Linked DNA regions of Homo sapiens: region 2 is linked to region 1. Evidence: fine-mapped expression QTL. Tissue or cell type: whole blood. Region 1 holds a variant in brackets; the other region holds the start of a gene. All regions are shown on one strand. Distances are between the middles of the regions.

Region 1 (10,877 bases):
AGGAACTTAATTCTTGCTTCTATCAATCAGCCTATGGTAAAACTGGTTTCATTCTATGTTTTGCTTAAAGGTGAAGATCCCAAGAACCTATCATCAAGATTGAGAACTTACTGTAACTGATCCCAGCATTCTCAGAGCCCCAAAGAAACTTCAGACCCCTTCTCACCTCAGAGGTCCAAGGAAACACATGACATGGGATAAAATGCAATTAAAGCACAGAAAGATGTTGACGCAGAATCCTGCCACCACCAACTTCCAGAACTGGAAAGACCCTGGAAGACCATCCTGGCCTCCTCAAAGCCTCTAGTACTTACAGACCAGCCCACACAGGTCCCTGGGGACGGAACAAAACCAAGCCCCAGTTAGACCAGGGGAGAAAGGTCTGTAGAGGAAAGACCAGCTTCTGCACACATTCTACCTCCCATGTGCTGAGAGATCTCTGGGATTCTCACACTCTTCCCTGTGGAATGGCCAGCTCGGCTGCACTGCATCCACTGGCATTGCTTTTTAGCCATTCTAAGCCTCTAAGGCAGATGGGTGTTTAAAAACCCGTAAACCACCAGGCGCGGTGGCTCATGCCTGTAATCCCAGCACTTTGGGAGGCCGAGGCAGGCGGATCACGAGGTCAGGAGATCGAGACCATCCTGGCTAACACGGTGAAACTCCATCTCTACTAAAAATACAAACAATTAGCCAGGCATGGTGGCGGGCGCCTGTAGTCCCAGCTACTCAGGAGGCTGAGGCAGGAGAATGGCGTGAACCCAGGAGGTGGAGGTTGCAGTGAGCCGAGATCGTACCATAGCACTCCAGCCTGGGCGACAGAGCGAGACTCGTCTCAAAAAACAAACAAACAAACAAACAAACAAACGAAACCCATAAACCAGCCCACAAGTTGGCCGAGATTAGCACTACCCCACCTTCCAACCAGACCTCCACCACACATATTTTCAGTGGGGAAATGCCTCTGGATTTTGAACAATCACTTACAAGTGAATTTCCATTAGGGAAAAAAAATTGTCTGGAAATTTACTTTCCTACCTTGTATTTATTTCCTTCAGGCCATGGAGTCCTTTATTTCCACGCCTCCCACTCTGTTAGGACTCCCTTGGGTGGGAGTGCCACCTAGTGCCACTGTGAGGCTCTGCAGGCTCTCAGGCCACCTGCAGATGGAGGCCTCCCTGCCTCAGTCAAGCCACCTGTATTCTCTGCCAGGTCCCAGCTGTGTGAATTTCATGCACTACTTCTAAGGGGATGCCCTGTGCCAGGGAACAGAAGGTAGCTGCGGAACAGGGGTAAAAGGTGTCCTCAGCTAATTCTCATTTCCTGGCTCTTGGCTAATTCTCATTCCCTGGGGGCTGGCAGAAGCCCCTCAAGGAAGATGGCTGGGGTCTTAACGGCTAGTACAAGAAACCACAGGCAGGCATCAGCCTCCCCAACGTCTGGGCAGAGAGGCCAGGCAAGCACAAAGTGCCTTCAGGCTATTTCTCTACACACCAGATTCTCCTATCCCTGCCCAACTCCCCACTCATCTTTGAGAATCGTTTTTGGCAGTCCCACTAGCCTGCAAGATGTCCCGGATACCCCTGGCACATTCAGAGCCCCACCAGCAGCTCCCCAAGGGCCCTGCCCAGGCACTCAGGAAGGGCAGACTGGGGTGGAATTCAGAAAAAGTGCTTTAGGCCAGACGTGGTGACTTAGTGTCTGTAATCCCAGCACTTTGGGAGGTCAAGGTGGGCAGATCACCTGAGGTGAGAAGTTCAACACCAGCCTGGCCAACATGGTGAAACCCCATCTTTACTAAACATACAAAAATTAGCCAGGTGTGGTGGTGCACGCCTGTAATCCCAGCTACTCGGGAGGCTGAGGTGGGAGAATCGCTTGAACCTAGGAAGCAGAGGTTGCAGTGAGCTGAGATTGCCACTGCATTCAGCCTGGGTGACAGAGCAAGACTCCATCTCAAAAAAAAAAAAAAAAAAAAATAGAAAAAGAAAAAGAAAAAGTGCTTTTAGGCCTGGCACGGTGACTCATGCCTGTAATCCCAACACTTTGGGAGGCTGAGGTGGGCGGATCACCTGAGGTCAAGAGTTCAAGACCAGCCTGGCCAACATGGTGAAACCCTGTCTCTACTAAAAATACAAAATTACTCAGGTGTGGTGGCACGCACGTGTAATCCCAGCTACTCAGGAGGCTGAGGCATGAGAATCGCTTGAACCTGGGAGGTGGAGGTTGCAATGAATTGAGATCGTGCCATTGCACTCCAGTCTGGGCAACAAGAGTAAAACTCCGTCTCAAAAAACAAAACAAAACAAAACAAAACTGCTTTTAGGTAGAGCCTCCTGGCAGACAGCTTCATGCAGGGCTGCAGGTATCTTGAGTCGGCCATCCCTCGATTCCTTCCAGCCCAGAAGTTTAGCCTTGTGTTTAAGTTCCATGTCTTTTTTTTGGAGACAGAGTCTGACTCTATCCCCCAGGCTGGAGTGCAGTGGAATGATCTTGGCTCACCACAACCTCTGCCTCCCGGGTTCAAGCAATTCTCATGCCTCAGCCTCCCAAGTAGCTGGGACTACAGGTACCTGCCACCACACTGGGCTAATTTTTGTATTTTTAGTAGAGATGGGGTTTCACCATGTTGGCCAGGCTCATCTCAAACTCCTGACCTCAGGTGATCTGCCTGCCTCCCAAAGTGCTGGGATTACGGGCGTCAGCCACCATGCCCCGCTGAGTTCCACATATTCTTGAGACACGGTCCCTCCGCTTGTCCACACACTGACCGCTCAAAGCCATTGGAGGTAGCTCCCAGGTGGGTCCTGGGCCACCTGGGGGCATGGCTGTATGAGCCACCGTTCCGCCCTCTGCGATCTCCTCCTGCCCTAGAGTGAGCCCACAATTCTCTGAGGTCAGAGCTGGCCCCTGCCAGCCAGTTCCAGTGGCATAAGAACACTACAGGAGTTCAGGTGGCACTGGGGCAGGCAGGAGGCTCTGCTTCCCTGCCAACTTGACTATTTGCCCATTTCCACACTCACACCTATTAGGTAAGAAGTAAAATAGTACTAAAGCTCCACTCCCTGCCAGCATGGGGCCAGGTATTTACATACACATCACTCTTATTTAACAACTTTATGAGGGCATGAATGGCCCTATTTATAGATGAGAATAATAAAGCTACAGCATGTACATCGCTCACCAACATGGAGAACACGTCCGATACTGCCCACTACCAGGTACACCGCGGCGCCAGGACGCGTGCTGAGCACAGGCCCATGGGGCTCCAGGAAGGGGACAGGGAGAGAAGGAGGACACAGGCCACTTCACAGGGTTCTGCCTTATGCTTAGGCTGAATGGTGGTAGACCAGACAGGCTGATCTGTCTTTATTCCTTTTGATGAATTGGAATACTGTACTATACATTTTTTTTTTATTCTAAACGGAGGCTAGAAACAAGGAAGCAGCGCTCAGACAGGAGTGAGCATACCTGCAAGCCCAGCTGAGTAAGGCCTTTCCTGCACTGCTGCTCCCCAAACACCTCAGCCCTTGCCACAAGCCCCCAGGGCCATGCCTCAAAACAATAAAACCACCTTCCGGGTTCAAGCGATTCTCCTGCCTCAGCCTCCCAAGTAGCTGGGATTACAGGCACCCGCCACCACGCCCAGCTAATTTCTGGGTTTTGTTTTTTTTTGTTTTTGAGATGGAGTCTCACTCTCTCTCCCAGTCTGGAGTGCAGTGGCACGATCTCGGCTCACTGCAAGCTCTGCCTCCCAGGTTCACACCATTCTCCTGCCTCAGCCTCCCAAGTAGCTGGGACTACAGGCGCCCGCCACCACGCCCGGCTAATTTTTTGTATTTTTTTTAGTAGAGACGGGGTTTCAACGTGTTAGCCAGGATGGTCTCGATCTCCTGACCTTGTGATCTGCCCACCTCAGCCTCCCAAAGTGCTGGGATTACAGGCATGAGCCACCACGCCCAGCCTAATTTTTGTATTTTTAGTAGAGACGGGGTTTCACCATGTTGGCCAGGCTGGTCTTGAACTCCTGACCTCGTGATCCACCCATCTCGGTCTCCCAAAGTGCTGGGATTACAGGTGTGAGCCACCGCGCCCAACCTTTTCCCTTTTTTTAAAAAGATTACATATTCGTTGGGCGCAGTAGCTCACGCCTATAATTTCAACACTTTGGGAGGCCAAGGCAGCTATATCACTTGAGCCCAGGAGGTTGAGACCTGCCTGGGCAACACGGCAAAACTCTACAAAAAAAAATAATAATAAATAAATTAAAAAAAAAAAAAAAAAAAAAATATATATATATATATATATATATATATATATATATATATATAGAAAAATTAGCCGGGCATGGTGGTGCACGCCAGTAATTCCAGCTACTCAGCAGGCTGAGGTGGGAGGATCGCTTGAGCCTGGGAGGTTGAGGCTGCAGTAAGCTGTGATCACACCGCTACACTCCAGCCTGGGCAACAGAGCAAGACTCTCTCAAAAAAGAAAAAGTTGTGTTTTTTGTTTGTTTTTGTTTTTTTTTAAAAGAGGTTACATATTTACCATTAAAAATCTCTCACTGGCCCTAAACTGGCAACAGTCATCTAACCCTGGTCTCACGCCACTCTGAACCGGACCCTCCTCTGTACTTCCTCCTGCACCAGCTCGCGGCAGCCACAGGGCTGTTCTGTTCAGACCTGAGAGACCCATTCAGGCACTCACGCTGGGACGTGCATGTCACTTTACTCCAGTGACTGAGGACCTGAGAACTCCTTCGTCCTCCATTTTCCAGAGCAAAGAAGAAACAGTGAAAGCTACAGAAAAGCATCTCTGCTTTTGTGAAAGCACAATTCTCTTCCCATGCTGACTCAGTCTGGGGAAGAGGTCAACTTTTGGATCCACTCTTCTGAAGAAGCAAGTGTCCCGCTCCCCTCACCCGGCACTGGCTATCTTGAATCAGTGAAGAGGAAAGCTCTTCACTCCCTAATGTCACGTCCTACACATTACAAGCTCTGACTGAAATTTCTCACTCAGAATGTTTGTAACCTAAACATTTAGACTGAGTGGCAAGGAAGGAGGATCCATGTGCTTCCAGAAATAAGGCTCGGCCCCAGACAGACCCAGAGGCCGCCCTGCCTTTGGCGTGGGAGCCGCAGGCTGAGCAAGTGCCTCCCCTCGGGCCAGGCCCTCTGTCCTCCAAACCACTGGGCCAGGAGAGCCTGGCCCTGCTCTGTGGCCACTCAGGCAGATGTATTTTGGCTGTGCCTGCCCTTGGCTGTGGGGCTGCTGCCAGGTGGTGGTAGCCCCAGGATGAAACCAGCCCTCCCCCAAGACCTAGATCCACGGGGCAGAGGCAACACAAAGGAACTCAGGACGCTGTGACCGGGCACAGCTCAGGCCCAAAGATGTGGGGCAGGTCCAGTCACAACAGCAGCCCCACGTCCCTTCTGGAGAGTCTGGACGGCCACCCCTGCTGTCAAGCCCCTGCCCCATGGGAAACTCACCTCCACTTGACCTAACTGCAAGCAAAAGTGTCCACCAAATGCCCTGGGTCTGTGGAGGGGCGAGGAAGGGGGGATGAAGGGGGATGAAGTGGGGAAGTGGGGAGAACAGGGAAGAGGGA[G/A]AAACGCTTGTTGGCCAAGAAGACCGGCAGAGAGGAAATGACACAGCTGCCCCAAGAGAGGCAAAACGGGTAGTAAGGACACCCGCAGGCCACTCCTCCCCTCAGAGATCTGCCCCCATCCTTCCCTAGCCTCTGCCACAAAAACCAGTTCTGTCTCTACTACTAGCTAATGGTTTTTTCTTTGTAGAGGCATGGTTTTGCTATGTTGCCCAGGCTGCTCTCAAACTCCTGGGCTCAAGAGATCTTCCTGCCTCAGCCTCTCAGGCAGCTGGGACCAGAGGCACACACCACCACCCCTGGCTGATTTTTCTTTTCTTTTCCATTTTTTTTTTCTTTCTTTTTTTTTTTTTTTGAGATAGAGTTTCGTTCTTATTGCCTAGGCTGGAGTGCAATGGCGCAGTTTCAGCTGAGGTGGGAGGATCACCTGAGCCTGGGAGGTCGAGGCCGTGGTGAGCCCTGCTCACACCACTGCACTCCAGACTGGATGACAGAGTGAGAGCCTGTCTTTTTTTTCCTTTTTTTCCCCCTGAGACAGCGTCTCGCTCTGTCACCAGGCTGGAGTGCAGTGGCATGATCTCAGCTCACTGCAACCTCCGCCTCCCAGGTTCAAGCGATTCTCCTGTCTCAGCCTCTCAGGTAACAGGGACCACAGGCACACACACCACCACCCCTGGCTAATTTTTCTTTTCCTTTTTCTTTTTTTTTTTTTTGAGACAGAGTTTCATTGACCAGGCTGGAGTGCAATGGCGCAGTCTCGGCTCACTGCAACCTCCGCCTGCTGGGTTCAAGTGATTCTCCTGTCTCAGCCTCCAAATTAGCTAGGATTACAGGCGCCCGCCACCACACCCAGCAAATGTTTTTGCATTTTTAGTAGAGACGGGGTTTCACCATGTTGGCCAGGCTGGCTAATTTTTTAATGTATTTTTTTGTAGAGACAGAGTCTTGCCTTGCCAGGCTGGTCATGAACTCCTGGGCTCAAGCAATCTTCCCACCTCAGCCTCCCAAAGTGTTGGGATCACAGGCATGAGCCACCATGCCTAGCTGAAAGTGTATATTTTCAATTAGATGTTTTGTAACCAAAAATTTGAGATATAATCTAAAACAGTATTTGTCAATTTCAGGAAAAGAGGAAACAGGCAATATGACATGATTGCTGAATGATTTTTTTTATGACTTTTGGGGACAAATAGGCAGCATATCTGAAATCACAACCGCCACACAAAGGCAGGACATATGACCACTGCAGCAGTATAAACTATGGATCCATAAACTACAGATCTGTACCTGGTAGCCACCCACCCTCTGTCTGTGCTCACTCACCGCGGCTCTGAGCACAGGCCTCTATGTCAACAGCCAAAGCCACAAGCCACACCTGTGGAACCCAAGTGAACACTCAGGCCAAGAACCAAGAATGTTCCCAGGACATCATGAGTTCCTGAAAAGAAACTCAGAGAAGCGGCTCTTCTACTTCTCAGCAGTCCCTGAGCTCCTGCCTTCAAGAGTGCCCTTGGTACCCTGCAGAAAATCACCTCTGCCCACTGATGGGCCACAGGTTGAATCAGGGACTCAAGGGAATAGCACTCTGGAAGCCAAAAAGCATTATTCAAGCTGCGCACACTCCACGCGACGGGGCTAAATGGAACTAAAAGGAACACTCTGGGTCTTCAACCTGAGCAGCTCAGCAAGCAGCTTTCCAGAACACGATTTCAAGCTACTTTTTTTTTTTTTTTTTGAGACAGAGTCTTGCTCTGTCACCCCGGCTGGAGTGCAGTGGCACAATCTCAACTCACTGCAACCTCTACCTCCTGGCTCAAGCAATCCTCCCACCTCAGCCTCCCAAGTAGCTGGGACCACAGGCCCATGCCACCACACCGGTTGATTTTTGTATTTTGAGCAGAGATGAGGTTTCACCACGTTGCGCGGATTGGTCTCAAACTCCTGAGCTCAAGTGATCCGCCACCTCAGTCTCCCAAAGTGCTGGGATTACAGGCATGAGCCACCACTCCAGGCCTCAAGCTACCCTTTCTAGAGACATCATTCTGTGAAATAAAAACTTAAAATAAAAACATCCTTTTTGTTTCGGTTTGGTTGTTTTTTTTTTTTTTTTTTTTTTTGAGACGGAGTCTCGCTCTGTCAACCAGGCTGGAGTACAATGGCACGATCTCGGCTCACTGCAACCTCTGCCTCCTGGGTTCAAGCAATTCTCCCACCTCAGCCTCCCGAGTAGCAGGGATTACAGGTGCCTGCCGCCACGCCTGGCTAATTTTTGTATTTTTAGTAGAGACAAGGTTTCACCATGTGGGCCAGGCTGGTCTTGAACTCCTGACCTCAGGTGATCCACCCGCCTCGGCCTCCCAAAGTGCTGGGATTACAGGCATGAGCCACCACACCCGGTGTTTTTTTTTTTTTTTTTTTTTTTTGAGATGGAGTTTCACTCTTGCTGCCCAGGCTGGAGTGCAATGGCGCAATCTCGGCTCACTGCAACCTCCACCTCCTGGGTTCAAGCGATTCTCCTGCCTCAGCCTCCCAAGTAGCTGGGATTACAAGTATGCACCACCACTCCCGGCTAATTTTTTGTATTTAGTAGAAGAGGGGTTCCACCATGTTGGTCGGGCTGGTCTTAACTCCTGACCTCAGGTGATCCACCCACCTCGACATCATGCTCAACTAACGGATAAAAGATTCACTCTTACCATAGATCTTATCAAAATCAGCATATGATTTTTTTTCTTTCCTTTTGAAGTCCAGAACTTTCACATTTTCACTTAAAGAAGGCACTTTACCACTTTCTCTTCGGCAATCCAAATTGCCAGAATTGCTATTATTGCACTTTGGGGCCAGTGTTAAGCCAAATAAGGGTGACCTGAACACAAGCACCAGAATACCACGACAGCTGATACGGTAACTGAGATGGCTACTAAGTGACTTATGGGCAGGCAGCATAGACACTGAGGTCACAATGGACAGAGGGAGGATTCATATCCTAGGTGGGAGAGAGAGAGTTCATTATGCTACTCAGAACAGGGAGACATTTGAAACTTAGGAATTGTGGCCAGGTGCGGTGGCTCACACCTGTAATCCCAGCTTTGGGAGGCTGAGGTGGGCAGATCACCTGAGGTCAAGAGTTCAAGAACAGCCTGGCCAACAATGGTGAAACCCGATCTCTACTAAAAACACACAAAAAAATTAGCCAGGTGTGGTGCCACAAGCCTGTAATCCCAGCTACTCGGGAGGCTGAGGCAGGAGAACTGCTTGAACCCGGGAGGCGCAGGTTGCAGTGAGCTGAGATCGCGCCACTGCACTCCAGCCTGGGCGACAGAGTGAGACGCCATCTCAAAAAATAATAATAATAATGATAAAATTTAAAAACTTAGGAATTATTTCTGGAAATTTACATTTAATATTTTCAGACTGCAGGAACATGAAACCTTGGATAAGGGGGAAACACTCCGATTGTTTTAGAAGCCAAATGCATGCCACAAACCATAAAGGTGTCCATACCCTTTCAGGCAGCAATCCTACACGTAGGCTTTCATCATGAGGAAAAGGCTTTATGTGCAAAGGTATGCTCTGCAACATTATTCATGGTGGCAAAGACCACCAGTATACCAGAATCAACTGAGGTGGTAAAGCCTCAGTGGCAACCAGAGACTTCAGGACCTGGGCGCCTGTCACCACTGAGGAAGAGCCAAGAGTGGCTCCAGGGTGGCTCACACCTGGAATCCCAGCACTTTGGGAGGCCAAGGTGGGAGGATCGCTTGAGACCAGCCTAGGCAACATAGTGAGACCCCATCTCTACAAAAAATAAAAAATTAGCTGAGTGTGGTGGTGGTGCATGCCTGTGCACCATGTCCCAGCTACTTGGGAGGCTGAGGTGAGAGGACTGCTTAAACTCGGAAGGTTAAGGCTACAGTGAGCTGTGACTGTGCCACTGCACTCCAGTCTGGGCAACACAGCAAGAGCCTGCCTCAAAAAAGAAAAACAAAAAACAAACAAACAGCTGAATCAATTTAAAAATACAGAAAAAAGGACAGGTGTGGTAGCTCACACCTGTAATCCCAGCACTTTGGGGGCCCAAGGCAGGTGGATCACAAGGTCAGGAAATTGAGAGCATCCTGGCCAACACGGTGAAACCCCATCTCTACTAAAAATACAAAAATTAGCTGGGCGTGGTGGTGCGCGCACCTGTAGTCCCGGCTGCTTGGGAGACTGAGGCAGGGGAATCACTTGAACCCGGGAGGCAGAGGTTGCAGTGAGCGAAGATCACGCCACTGGACTCCAGCCTGGGAGACAGAGCGAGACTCAGTTTCAAAAAAAAAAAAAAAGAAAGAAAAAAAGCCGGGCGTGGTGGCTCACACCTGTAATCCCAGCACTTTGGGAGGCTGAGGCGGGCGGATCACCTGAGGTCGGGAGTTCGAGACCAGCTTGACCAACATGGAGCATCCCCGTCTCTACTAAAAATACTAAATTAGCCAGGCGTGGTGGCACACACCTGTAATCCTACCTACTTGGGAGGCTGAAGCAGGAAAATTGCTTGAACCCGGGAGGCGGAAGTTGCAGTGAGCAGAGATTGTGCCACTGCACTCCAGCCTGGGCAACAAGAGCAAAATGCCATCTCAAAAAAAAAAAAAAAAGAAAATAGAGATAAAGACAGGAAGTGAATGCATAAAAAACAAAGCGCATGATTAAGCAATCACAGTCACATGGCAAGAAGGCGTGGGAATCATCATGTCCCCTGTTTTCCAACATTCTGTCATAGTGTTTGCTATATTCATCTCCGTCATTTAACAGGGAGTAAGACTGATTTCTACAAGCATGCCAAGACCATTCAATAGAGAAAGGATAATCTTTTCAACAAATGATGCTGGGAAAACTGGATACCCACATGCAAAATAATGACGTTGGATTCTTCTCTTATACCGTAAATAAAAATTAATTCAAAATGGATAAAAGACTTAAATATAAAACTACCCTGGCGAAGTGGCACATACCTACAGTCCACTACTGGGAAGGCTAAGGTGAAAGAAACATGTGAACCCAGGAGTTCAAGGCTGTAGCAAGATATGATCACACCACTACTCTCCAGCCTTAGCACAGCAAGACCCTGTCTCTGAAAAACAAAACAAAACAAAAACCTAAAACTGGCCCGGCACAGTGGCTCATGCCTGTAATTCTAGCACTTTGGGAGGCCAAGGTGGGTGAATCACTTGAGCTAAGGAGTTCAAAACCACCCTGGGCAACATGGTGAAACCCCATCTCTACAAAAAAA
Region 2 (10,877 bases), 24 kb after region 1:
CCACATCATTTAGTTCTCTGCTCAAATGTTACCTCCTCAGTGCAGTTTTTCCTGAGCACTGTATGCCCAAGAGTTGGCCCTCTTGAACACTAACTTCTTAATTTTTAAAAAAAATTTTTCTGGGTATGTAGTAGGCATATATATCTATGTGTTACATGAGCTAGTTTGATACAGGCACGCAATATGGAATAATCACATTAGGTAAATGGGATATCTATCCCCTCAAGCATTTAAGCTTTGTGTTACAAACAATCCAGTTATACTCTTTTAGTGTTTTGTTTTGTTTTTTTGAGATGGAGTTTTGCTCTGTCGCCCAGGCTGGAGTGCAGTGGCATGATCTCAGCTCACCGCAACCTCCGCCTCCTGGGTTCAAGCAATTCTCTGCCTCAGCCTCCCGAGTAGCTGGGATTACAGGCACCCACCACCATGCCTGGCTAATTTTTTGTATTTTTAGTAGAGATGGGGTTTCACCTTCTTGGCCAGACTGATCTTGAACTCCTGACCTCGTGATCCACCCGCCTCAGCCTCCCAAAGTGCTGGGATTACAGGCGTGAGCCACCGCACCCAGCCTTTTAGTTATTTTTAAATGTAATAATTTTAAATTATTTTTGACAATAGTCACCCTGTTGTGCTAGCAAACACTAGGTCTTATTCATTTTATTTTATATATTTTTTTGAGATGGCATCTTGCTCTGTTGCCCAGGCTGGAGTGCAATGGCGCAATCTCAGCTCACTGCAACCTCTGACTCCCAGGTTCAAGGAATTCTCCTACCTCAGCCTCCTGAGTAGCTGGGATTACAGGAGCACACCACCACACCCGGCTAATTTTTTTTTGTAGTTTTAGTAGTGACAGGGTTTGTTGGCCACGCTGGTGTTGAACTCCTGACCTCAGGTGATCCACCCGCCTGGGCCTCCAAAGTGCTGGGATTACAGGCGTGAGCCACTGCACCCAGCCCATTTTATTTTTTTGATACCCATTAACCATCCCCATTTCTTCCCATCCCCCCACTACCCTTTCCAGCTTCTGGTAACCATCCTTCTACTATCTCCATGAGTTCAACCGTTTTAATTTACAGCTCCCACAAATAAGTGAGAACATGCAAAGTTTGTCTTTCTGTTGAGCACTAACTTCTTAATTATCTTGCTTTCTTTTTCTTCATGGCATTTCTTATTACACAAAATGAATGGATTCTGCATGTATTCAGTTATTTGTTTACTGTATGTATACCTCGATGAACACGGGGTTTATCTGTGTTCTCACTGGCCTTCAATCTCAATAGTGACAGTATGCCCCAGAAAGATGAATGGATGGGTTCAAACAGATGTCTCTTCTACATGCATTCTACATCGCATCCTTCAAGTAGGCAATTAAAGCCCACAATTGAGCACTCCAGTCTGCCTGTGCAACTCAAATCTCAGCGCTGCCACTTCTTAGCAGCTGTGTGACCTTAGGAAATTTCTTAACTAATCTTAAGCCTCAGTTTCTCCACCTGCAAAAACAAAACTCACCTCATTAGAAGACAATCATGCAAAACCTTAGCTCAGGGCCTGGCACCTAGTTAGACTGTTATTATTAAGAGTTGATATTCAGCTGACATACACTGAGATGGTCATATCAATCATCTATGACCAGCATTCACTCTCACTAGTCTGTCTCCATGGCATCCTGGTTATAAGTTTGTTTGTTTGTTTGTTTGTTTTTTGAGACAGGGTCTCACTCTGTCACCCAGGCTGGAATGCAGTGGTGAAATCACAGCTCACTGCAGCCTCGACCTCCTGGGCACAAGTGAACCTCCCACCTTAGCTTCCCAAGTAGCTGGGACCACAGATGTGCACCCAGCCATTTTTTGCGGAGAGGAGGTCTCACTATGTTGCTCAGGTTGGTCTCGAACTCTTGGGCTCAAGCAATTCTCCTGCCTCAGCCTCCCAAAGTGTTGAGATTACAGACATAAGCCACCACACCTGGCCAGTTGCACTATTTTTTCTTTTTCTTTTTTTTTTTTTTTTGAGACAGGGTCTCACTCTGTTGCCCAGGCTGGAGTGCAGTGGCATGATCTTGGCTCACTGCAGCCTCAACCTCCTGGGCTCAGGCAATCCTCCTACCTCAGCCTCCCAGGTGGCTGGGACTACATGTATGCACCACTATGACCAGCTAATTTTTGTGTTTTTTGTACAGATGGGTTTTTGCCATGTTGCCCAGGCTGGTCTTGAACTCCTGAGCTCATGCAATCCACCCGCCTTAGCCTCCCAAAATGCTGGGATTACAGGCATGAGACACCACGCCCAGGCCTAAGACATTTTTAACATCACCCCTAGTAGTAACATTTTGCCTATAGTCCTTATGTCTCCCTTGCTTTCTAAAGCTGTGAAAGTTCTCCTAAAACAGAACGGACAGACCTCTTGAAGGCTTTATCCCGTATTCCACCATGTATTACAAGTATATAGTAAAGTTCCTTGAAGACAAGGCCTATTTCAAATGTTTTTAATTTCTTCATTTGCTCCCCTTCCCTTCTCTCTTCTCCCTTCTCTATGGTCCGTTGACAGTGTGGTTTGCAGTGGTAGGGATGCCATAAATATTTCTGATGGAAGTCATGCACGAGAAGCTACTTCCTAGGTACTATTGTCCGTACTTGCCTGAACCTAAGAATCACCTGTAAAAACTACAGTTGCCAGAGCCCCAACTTATATCTACTGAATCTGAAATTGGCAGTAGGATGGGGGCATATCTGGAATCTTTTTTTTTTTGAGACGGAGTCTTGCTCTGTTGCCGAAGCTGGAGTCCAGTGGCGTGATCTCGGCTCACTGCAACTTCCGCCTCCCGGGTTCAGGAGATTCTCCTGCCTCAACCTCCTGAGTAGTTGGGACTACAGACACACGCCACCACACCCGGCTAATTTTTGTTAGAGACGGGGTTTCAGCATGTTGGCCAGGCTGGTCTCGATCTCCTGACCTCATGATCCACCCACCTTGGCCTCCCAAAGTGCTGGGATTACAGGCATGCGCCACCGTGCCCGGCTTTGTTTTTTTTAATCAGCCAGCCTCCCAAACTACAGCAGGCTCAGAGAGACTCCCAAGGAATCTCTATTTCTAACAAGCATCCCAGCCCATTCAGCCCATTCTTTTATCAAATGAGTTTAGGAAACATGGCCCTAAATTATCACCCAAGATGTTATCTATCACCTGTCACACATCACCCAGTTATTGAAAAACTTACCTGAAATATAAGGTTTTCATTTACATGTCTCACAAATAGGCACTGGTTTACTAAAAACCCACAGAAATGTTATCTTTTTGGTTTGTGTATTAATATCATTTCTATCTTGATATAGAATACCTTTGAAAATTAAGGTTTCTTATTGTACCCAAATCTTCATCTCTCTCACCCACTGCATCTAAGTCTAGCCTTATCTATCTACACTGGTACTAAAACATAGCTTTTTTTCTTTCCCTTTTAATGATGGTGACTGAGGTACAGCCTCCTCTCATCATTTAAAAAAATTATTTTAGGTGGACTGCGATGGCTCACTTCTGTAATGCCAGCACTTAGAGAGGTGAAAGTGGGTGGATCACTTGAGCCCAGGAGTTCAACACCAGCCTGGGCAACATGGTGAAACCCTGTCTCCACCCCCACCCCCAAAAAAAATGCAGCTGGGCGGGGTGGCGTGCACCTGTGGTCCTAGCTACTCAGGAGGCTGAGGTGGAAGAACTGCTTGAGACCAGGAGGTGGAGGCTGCAGTGAGCCATCATCACACCACTGCACTCCCTCTTGGGCAACAGAGTGAGGCTCTGACTTCCAAAACAAATAACAACAACAAAAAACAATTTTTTAAGAGTCTCATTTTAGTCCTTTCAATTCGTGACACACTTTATTTATTTTTAATTTTTTTGAGACAGAGTCTCACTCTGTCGCCCAGGCTGGACTCCAGCGGCGCAGTCTTGGCTTATTGCAACCTCCGCCTCCCAGGTTCAAGCAATTCTCCTGCCTCAGCCTCCCAAGTAGCTGGGATTACAGGTGCCTGCCACCATGCCCGGCTAATTTTTGTATTTTTTAGTAGAGACAGGGTTTCACCACATTGGCCAGGCTGGTCTCGAACTCCTGACCTCAAGTGATCCACCCACCTTGGCCTACCAAAGTGCTGAGGTTACAGGCGTGAGCCACCGCGCCCAGCCTGTGACACACTTTAAATGAATTCAGGGTTGACTCATACACAGCACGCCTGGTAATAACATTGAAAACAAAGTCTCCTGCCCAAATTCTAACAGTTACCACCACAATGCAGAGCCCTCTCCTGAGAGATAATCATTTCTGTACAGTTAATGATGAAAGAGTGACGCTTTCATAACAAGACCAATGATGGTTTCTGTTCCCTCTCAGTCCAAATCCAGTGTCCGTCTCCTCCCAAAACAATAGGTTATCCTCTGATCAACGCTGACAAAATGAACCCTGTAGGAAACACACAAGTATGGCGCATCTCTCAAATCTTAGCTCTTTGAAATGACACCAGGCAGCCGACTCTGAATCACAGCTACATTTTAATCCATTTTCCGACACTCCAAATGCTCTAAGCTATTTTCTGTATAACCACTGCCCTCACGGCGGGCAGCCTGAGAGAAAGATCGTCGCGTGAGGGGGTACCTTGATGGGGGTCCGGGCTCTGCTACAAACTGGCTAGGTGAACTTGAGCAAATCCCTCCCTCTCTCGGAGCCTCAATCTCATTAACTCCAAAGAGAGACAGCTGGACTCAGAAGACCCCTCAAGTCTCCCACATTTCTAAGAATCTAACAGCTGGGGGTCACAAGGGTAACCAAGACTCTAGCCCCATAACATATTGTTTTGAGATTACCTAACCTAACCCTCTAGCTTCAAAGACTAAGATCCAGAAATGAAAGTTGCCTGACACTCAATCTAGTGTCCTTCCCACAGGACATCATTCCTTCTACGAAAACGAACACACGAGAAAATGGCATCTGAACATCTGAAAGCCCTGCCTCGACTCAAGAGACGGGCAGGTAGCCTATTTCATCTGATTTTTGTCCCTCGTGAACTTCCACCTAGCTGGAAAGGGCAAAGCGCGAGCTTCTAGGCCACACCCTAAGTAAATCCGGACCGCCCTACGCAGGAGCAGTCGCACCTGCTCCTAAGCTCGAGGTGAAGGTGGCTCCGTCTCCACCCGAGCTCGCCTCAGAGCGAGCCCGCGACACAGAAACATCTCTCTTCAGACCCCAGCTTGGTCCAGGTTGCCCCACGCCCCAAGGTAGTCTCTCCGCGCTGCTATACCTGCTCCGCCACGGCGCGACCCCGTGCAGTAATCCCAGACATCGGTGCCCCACGGACGTCGCCATCTTGTCTGCTCCTTCTCAGCGTGCCACGCCCCCTTCACACGCTGGGCGCACGCTTAAGGCGTCACGAGTCTCGAGTTCAGTGGGCCAATGAGAAAAGCGCGGGTTGGGGGCGGAGCCGACTAAGCTCCGCCCTGTGGCTACTCCCCACCTAACCCGCTTGGCACCTGCGGAGGTAGGGGAACTAGTGGAGCTGTAGGTTTCGCTAAACCTGGGCTTGGTCGCAGCACTGCCACTCCTCCTCCTTCCCTCTGGGTGCCTTTCCTCATGTACCTGGAAAATCTGAGTCATCCAAGATCCAAGAATGTCGTTTCAAGTGATCGAACTTGCTCATTTTACGGATGGGGAAACTGGGCATCCATGACTCAGCTCTCGTTTTTTAAGCGCCGGAGTGTGTTGTGAGCACTTTGCAAGCATGGTGTCATATCATTCTTATCTCCTACCGCTGTGCTGCCAGGGAGACCGGGGGCAAACGGTCTTGGATCACCTAGAAATGCAACCAGTCGTTAAATTCGGTGCCTGGTGCTTGCTCTTGAAAAGGTTCCTATCTTCAATTGTAAGAGGAAAACGAGTTTTCAATCATGTCTGCTACTTTTTACTGAGCACTGACTAGAGACTCGCAGCTAGGCCCGAGACATTATCCCCATTTTAAAGATGAGGTACCTGAGGCTCAGGAAGGTTAAGCAACATCTTCAAGGGTACATAAAGGGCATATGCCCAAAGACTATAAAATAGTGAAGCCAGAATTTGAACATACGTCTCTGACTCCAAAAACCATGTCCTAAACATCTTCTTCTTTTTTTTTTTTTTTTGAGACAGAGTCTCTCATTGTCGCCCAGGCTGGAGTGCAGTGGCGCGATCTCGATTCACTGCAAGCTCCGCCTCCCGGGTTGACGCCATTCTCCTGCCTCAGCCTCCCGAGTAGCTGGGACTACAGGCGCCCGCCACAACGCCCGGCTAATTTTTTTATATATATTTTTCGTAGAGACGGGGTTTCACCATGTTAGCCAGGATGGTCTCGATCTCCTGACCTCGTGATCCGCCCGCCTCGGCTTCTCAAAATGCTGGGATTACAAGCGTGAGCCACCGCACCTGGCCTAAACATTCTTCCTTTTAAGCCCTTTGTCAGAATCTGGCAGAATTTGGGTCCAACAACTGAAGGAATGCAGCCCTACTTTTTCATCTGCTAAGCTGATAATCACAGTTGCCTTCACCAGGCATTTGACAGGAGGAGGAATATGCTCCCTGGTCCCTGCAGGTATTTCTGTGTAGTTGGCTTAAGTTCAACTAGGGCATACTCAGCTCCTACAGAGAGCTTAAAAGGCACCAGGTTTGGTATTGGGGGGAAGAAACCTCCCTTTGTCATGGTTTTCAAAAGTCGGAAAAGAAAAAAACAAATGTATAGAATTGGTTTTGGCCGGGCGCAGTGGCTCACGCCTGCAATCCCCACTCACTGGGAGGCTGAGGTGGGAGGATAGCTTGAGCCAAGGAGTTGAGACCAGCCTGGGCCGGGCGCGGTGGCTCACGCCTGTAATCTCAGCACTTTGGGAGGCCGAGGTGGGCGGATCACGAGGTCAAGAGATTGAGACCATCCTGGCTAACACGATGAAACCCCATCTCTACTAAAAATACAAAAAAAATTAGCCGGGCGTGGTGGCGGGCGCCTGTAGTCCCAGCTACTCTGGAGGCTGAGGCAGGAGGATGGCGTGAACCCGGGAGGCGGACTTGCAGCGAGCCGAGATCGCGCCATTGCACTCCAGCCTGGGTGACAGAGTGAGACTCCGTCTCAAAAAAAAAAAAAAAAAAAAAAAGGAAGTAAAAAAGAGACCAGCCTGGACAACATAGTGAGACTCCATCTCTTTTTTTTTTTTTTTAAGAGGCTGGGCACCGTGGCTCACCCTATGATCCCAGCACTTTGGGAGGCCAAGGCGGGCGGATCACCTGAGGTCAGGAGTTCGAGACCAGCCTGGCCAACATGGTGAAACCCCATCTCTATTAAAAATACAAAAATTAGCTGGGCATAGTGGCGCCTGCCTGTAATCCCAGCTACTCCAGAGGCTGAGGTACGAGAATTGCTTGAACCCGGGAGGGGGAGGTTGCAGTGAGCTGAGATAATGCCATTGCACTCCAGCCTGGGAGACAGAGTGAGACACCATTTAAAAAAAAAATACATATTGGTTTAATTGGTTTTACTATCCAATTGAGAGTAGTAAACCAGCAGGGAATGGGGGGAAATTATTTCCAAATGAAGTGCATTGGGAAAACTGAATATCCATATACAAAAAGTAAAGTGCAGCCTTACACCATATACAAAAATTCATTCAAAATGGATCAGAGATGTAAACTGAAGAGCTAAAACTATAATACTCTTAGACGAAAACATAGGGGAAATCTTCATGACGTTGGATTTAGCAATGATTTCTTGTATATGACGTTAAAAGCACAGGCAACAACAACAAAAACAACAAAAAGATATACTTCGAAATTAAAACTTTTGTGCATCAAAGAACACTATCAAGAGAGTGAAAAGACGCTGGGCGCGGTGTCTCACGCCTGTAACCCCAGCACTTTGGGAGGCCAAGGCGGGCAGATCACCTGAGATCAGGAGTTGGAGACTAGCCTGGCCAACGTGGTGAAACCCTGTCTGTAGTAAAAATACAAAAATTAGCCGCATGTGGTGGCGCAAGCCTGTAATCCCATCTACTCGGGAGGCTGAGGCAAGAGAATCACTTGAATATGGGAGGTGGAGGTTGTGGTGAGCCGAGATCGTACCATTGCACTCCAGCCTGGGCAACAAGAGTGAAACTCTGCCTTAAAAAAAAGAGAGAGAGAGAGAAAAGGCAACCCACAGAATGAAAGAAAATGTTTGCAAATCATGTATTATCTGATAAGGATATTTGCTCATTACTGTCATGTAGATGGGTGGGGAAGAACCTATTTTTCCAAGCTTACAGGAAAATAAATAAATAAATGGCTCACTGAATGCTTTTAGAATAAAAGTCTCCAACTTTATTTTTTGAGACAGAGCCTCACTCTGTTGCCCAGGTTGGAGTGCAGAGATGCGATCTCGGCTCACTGCAGCCTCCACCTCCCGGGTTCAAGCGATTCTCCTGCCTCAGCCTTCCGAGTAGCTGGGACTACAGGCGTGCCACACACCCAGCTAATTTTCGAATTTTTAGTAGAAACGGGTTTTCATCATGTTAGCCGGACTGGTCTCAAATTGCTGACCTCAAGTCTGCCCGCCTCGGCCTCCCAAAGTGCCAGGATTACAGGCGTGAGCCACCGCGCCGGGCCTGACAGTCTCAAACTTTAAAGCACGCTTCCTGCCCACCAAGGCTTGCGCTCGCTGTGCCTCCTTCAGTAGGAAACAGCATTAACTTCCGTAAGATCCTGTCTTTTGAGACCCCGTCTCAAAAAAAAACAACAACAAACCGACTTAAGCACTCGAATCTTCGGCAGCTTATCTATACATTTGGATATCACTTAACCTCATGGAATTGTGAGGACAAAATAATGCAGCGTAAGTTCAAGGCACCTGGTAGGTGCGAATTACTCAACAACTGGGGGCATTAATTTCTGAGATTTCTCTGTGGCCGCTAGGGGGCAGAATTAGCCTAGCATTTAAGAACGAGCTTGCTTGGCTGGGCGCGGTGGCTCACGCCTGTAATCCCAGCACTTTGGGAGGCGGAGACGTGCGCATCACGAGGGCAGGAGATCGAGACCATCCTGGCTAACACGGTGAAACCCCGTCTCTACTAAAAATACAAAAAAATTAGCCGGACGTGGTGGCGGGCGTCTGTAGTCCCAGCTACTCTGGAGGCTGAGGCAGGAGAATGGCGTAAACCCGGAAGGCAGAGCTTGCAGTGAGCTGAGATAGCGCCACTGCACTCCAGCCTGGGCGACAGAGCGAGACTCCGTCTCAAGAAAAAAAAAAAAAACGAGCTTGCCTCAATTTTGTTTTCAAAGGATTTTTGCAGTGTGGATGGTAGTGGCAGAGCTTCGAGGCTTTCGTGAGCCCCAAGCACTTTTGCCTCAGTGGACTGACCCTTTTCTCCATAAAAAATTAAGAATTTTATTTTACAACCGTATTGGTATAAAGACTATTGTCTTTATATTAACACATTTATATTTATAAATCCAAGCTGAATTCATTATTATTATATTCTTTTCCTTTTTTTCCTTTGAGACAGAGTTTCACTCTGTGGCCCAGGCTGGAGTGCAGTGGCCCGCGATATCGGCTCACTGCAATCTCCGCCTACCGGGTTCAAACGATTCTCTTGCCTCAGCCTCTCCAGTGCCTTCAATTACAAGCACTGGCCACCACGCCTGGCTAAATTTTGTATTTTTGTTTAGAGAGACAGGGTTTCGTCATGTTGGCCAGGCTGATCCCAAATTCGGGGGCTCAAGTGATCCTCCTGCCTCGGCCTCCCGAAGTGTTGGGATTACAGGCATGAGCCATCGCACCCAGCCTCATTTTTTAATTTTAATATTAAAAATTTTGTTGTGGGTCCTTAGCACTTTTTTTCTTTTTCTTTTTCTTTTTTTTTTTTTTTTTTTTTGAGACAGGATATTGCTCTGACACCCAGGCTAGAGTGCAGTGGCACAATCATGGCTCACTGCAACCTGGACCTCCCAGGCTCAAGCAATCCTCCCACCTCAGCCTCCCGAGTAGCTGGGATTACGGGTGCACACCACCACACTCAGCTTATTTTGTATTTTTTATAGAGATGAGGGTCTCACTATGTTACCCAGGCTGGTCTCCAACTCTTAGGCTCAAGTAATCCTCTTACCTCGACCTCCCAAAAAGTTGGGATTACAAGTGTGAGCCATGGCTCCCAGCCAGCACTTTTCCTATTGTCTTAGTCCATTTCTTAATCTGTTAAAATTGGGAAACATTGGTAACTACCTGATAGGCACAACAAGGTTTTATTTTGAGATGATAAAATTTGTCCTGAATTAGACAGAAATGGTACACCACGTTGTGAATGTACTAAATGTCACTGAATTGTCCACTTTAAAATGGTTGATTTTAGGCTGGGCACAGTGGCTCACACCTGTAATCCCAACACTTTGGAAGGCCAAGGTGGGTGGATCACCTGAGGTCAGGAGTTCAAGACCAGCCAGGCCAACATGGTGAAACCCTGTCTCTACTTTTTAGTAGAGACAAAATTAGCTGGTCGGGCTGGGCTCGGTGGCTCACACCTGTAATCCCAGCATTTTGAGAGGCCAAGGAGGGCGGATCATGAGGTCAGGAGTTCGAGATTGCCTGGCCAATATGGTAAAACCCTGTCTCTAGTAAAAATACAAAAATTAGCTGGGTGTGGTGGTGCATGCCTGTACTCCCAGCTACTCAGGAGGCTGAGGCAAGAGAATCGCTTGAACCTGGGAGGCGGAGGTTGCAGTGAGCCGAGTAACTGTAATATCAGCTACTCAAGAGGCTGAGGCAAGAGAATCGCTTGAACCTGGGAGGCAGAGGTTGCAGTGAGCCGAGTAACTGTAATACCAGTTACTCAGGTGGCTGAGGCCGTAGAATCAC

What was found. PIP is the estimated chance that this variant, and not a neighbour inherited with it, causes the effect.
Region 2: PISD starts here. The variant in region 1 is fine-mapped to the expression of PISD in whole blood (TOPMed, PIP above 0.99).

What each region holds. Positions count from the first base shown.
Region 1 is chr22:31,632,877-31,643,753 of GRCh38, forward strand. All of the region lies in intron 3 of PISD (phosphatidylserine decarboxylase), which reads right to left. Among named protein-coding and RNA genes, the nearest start is that of MIR7109, 17 kb to the left of the region's middle. RefSeq lists a silencer at 1,229-1,278 and an enhancer at 5,921-6,000. The variant G/A (reference allele first, on the strand shown) is at 5,609.
Region 2 is chr22:31,656,865-31,667,741 of GRCh38, forward strand. It overlaps PISD (phosphatidylserine decarboxylase), which reads right to left and starts at 5,351. Exons shown (of 8, transcript NM_001326411.2): 1 at 5,280-5,351. The coding sequence starts at 5,344. RefSeq lists enhancers at 3,188-4,082, 4,083-4,976, 4,272-4,411, 4,385-5,584, 4,802-4,851 and 2 more.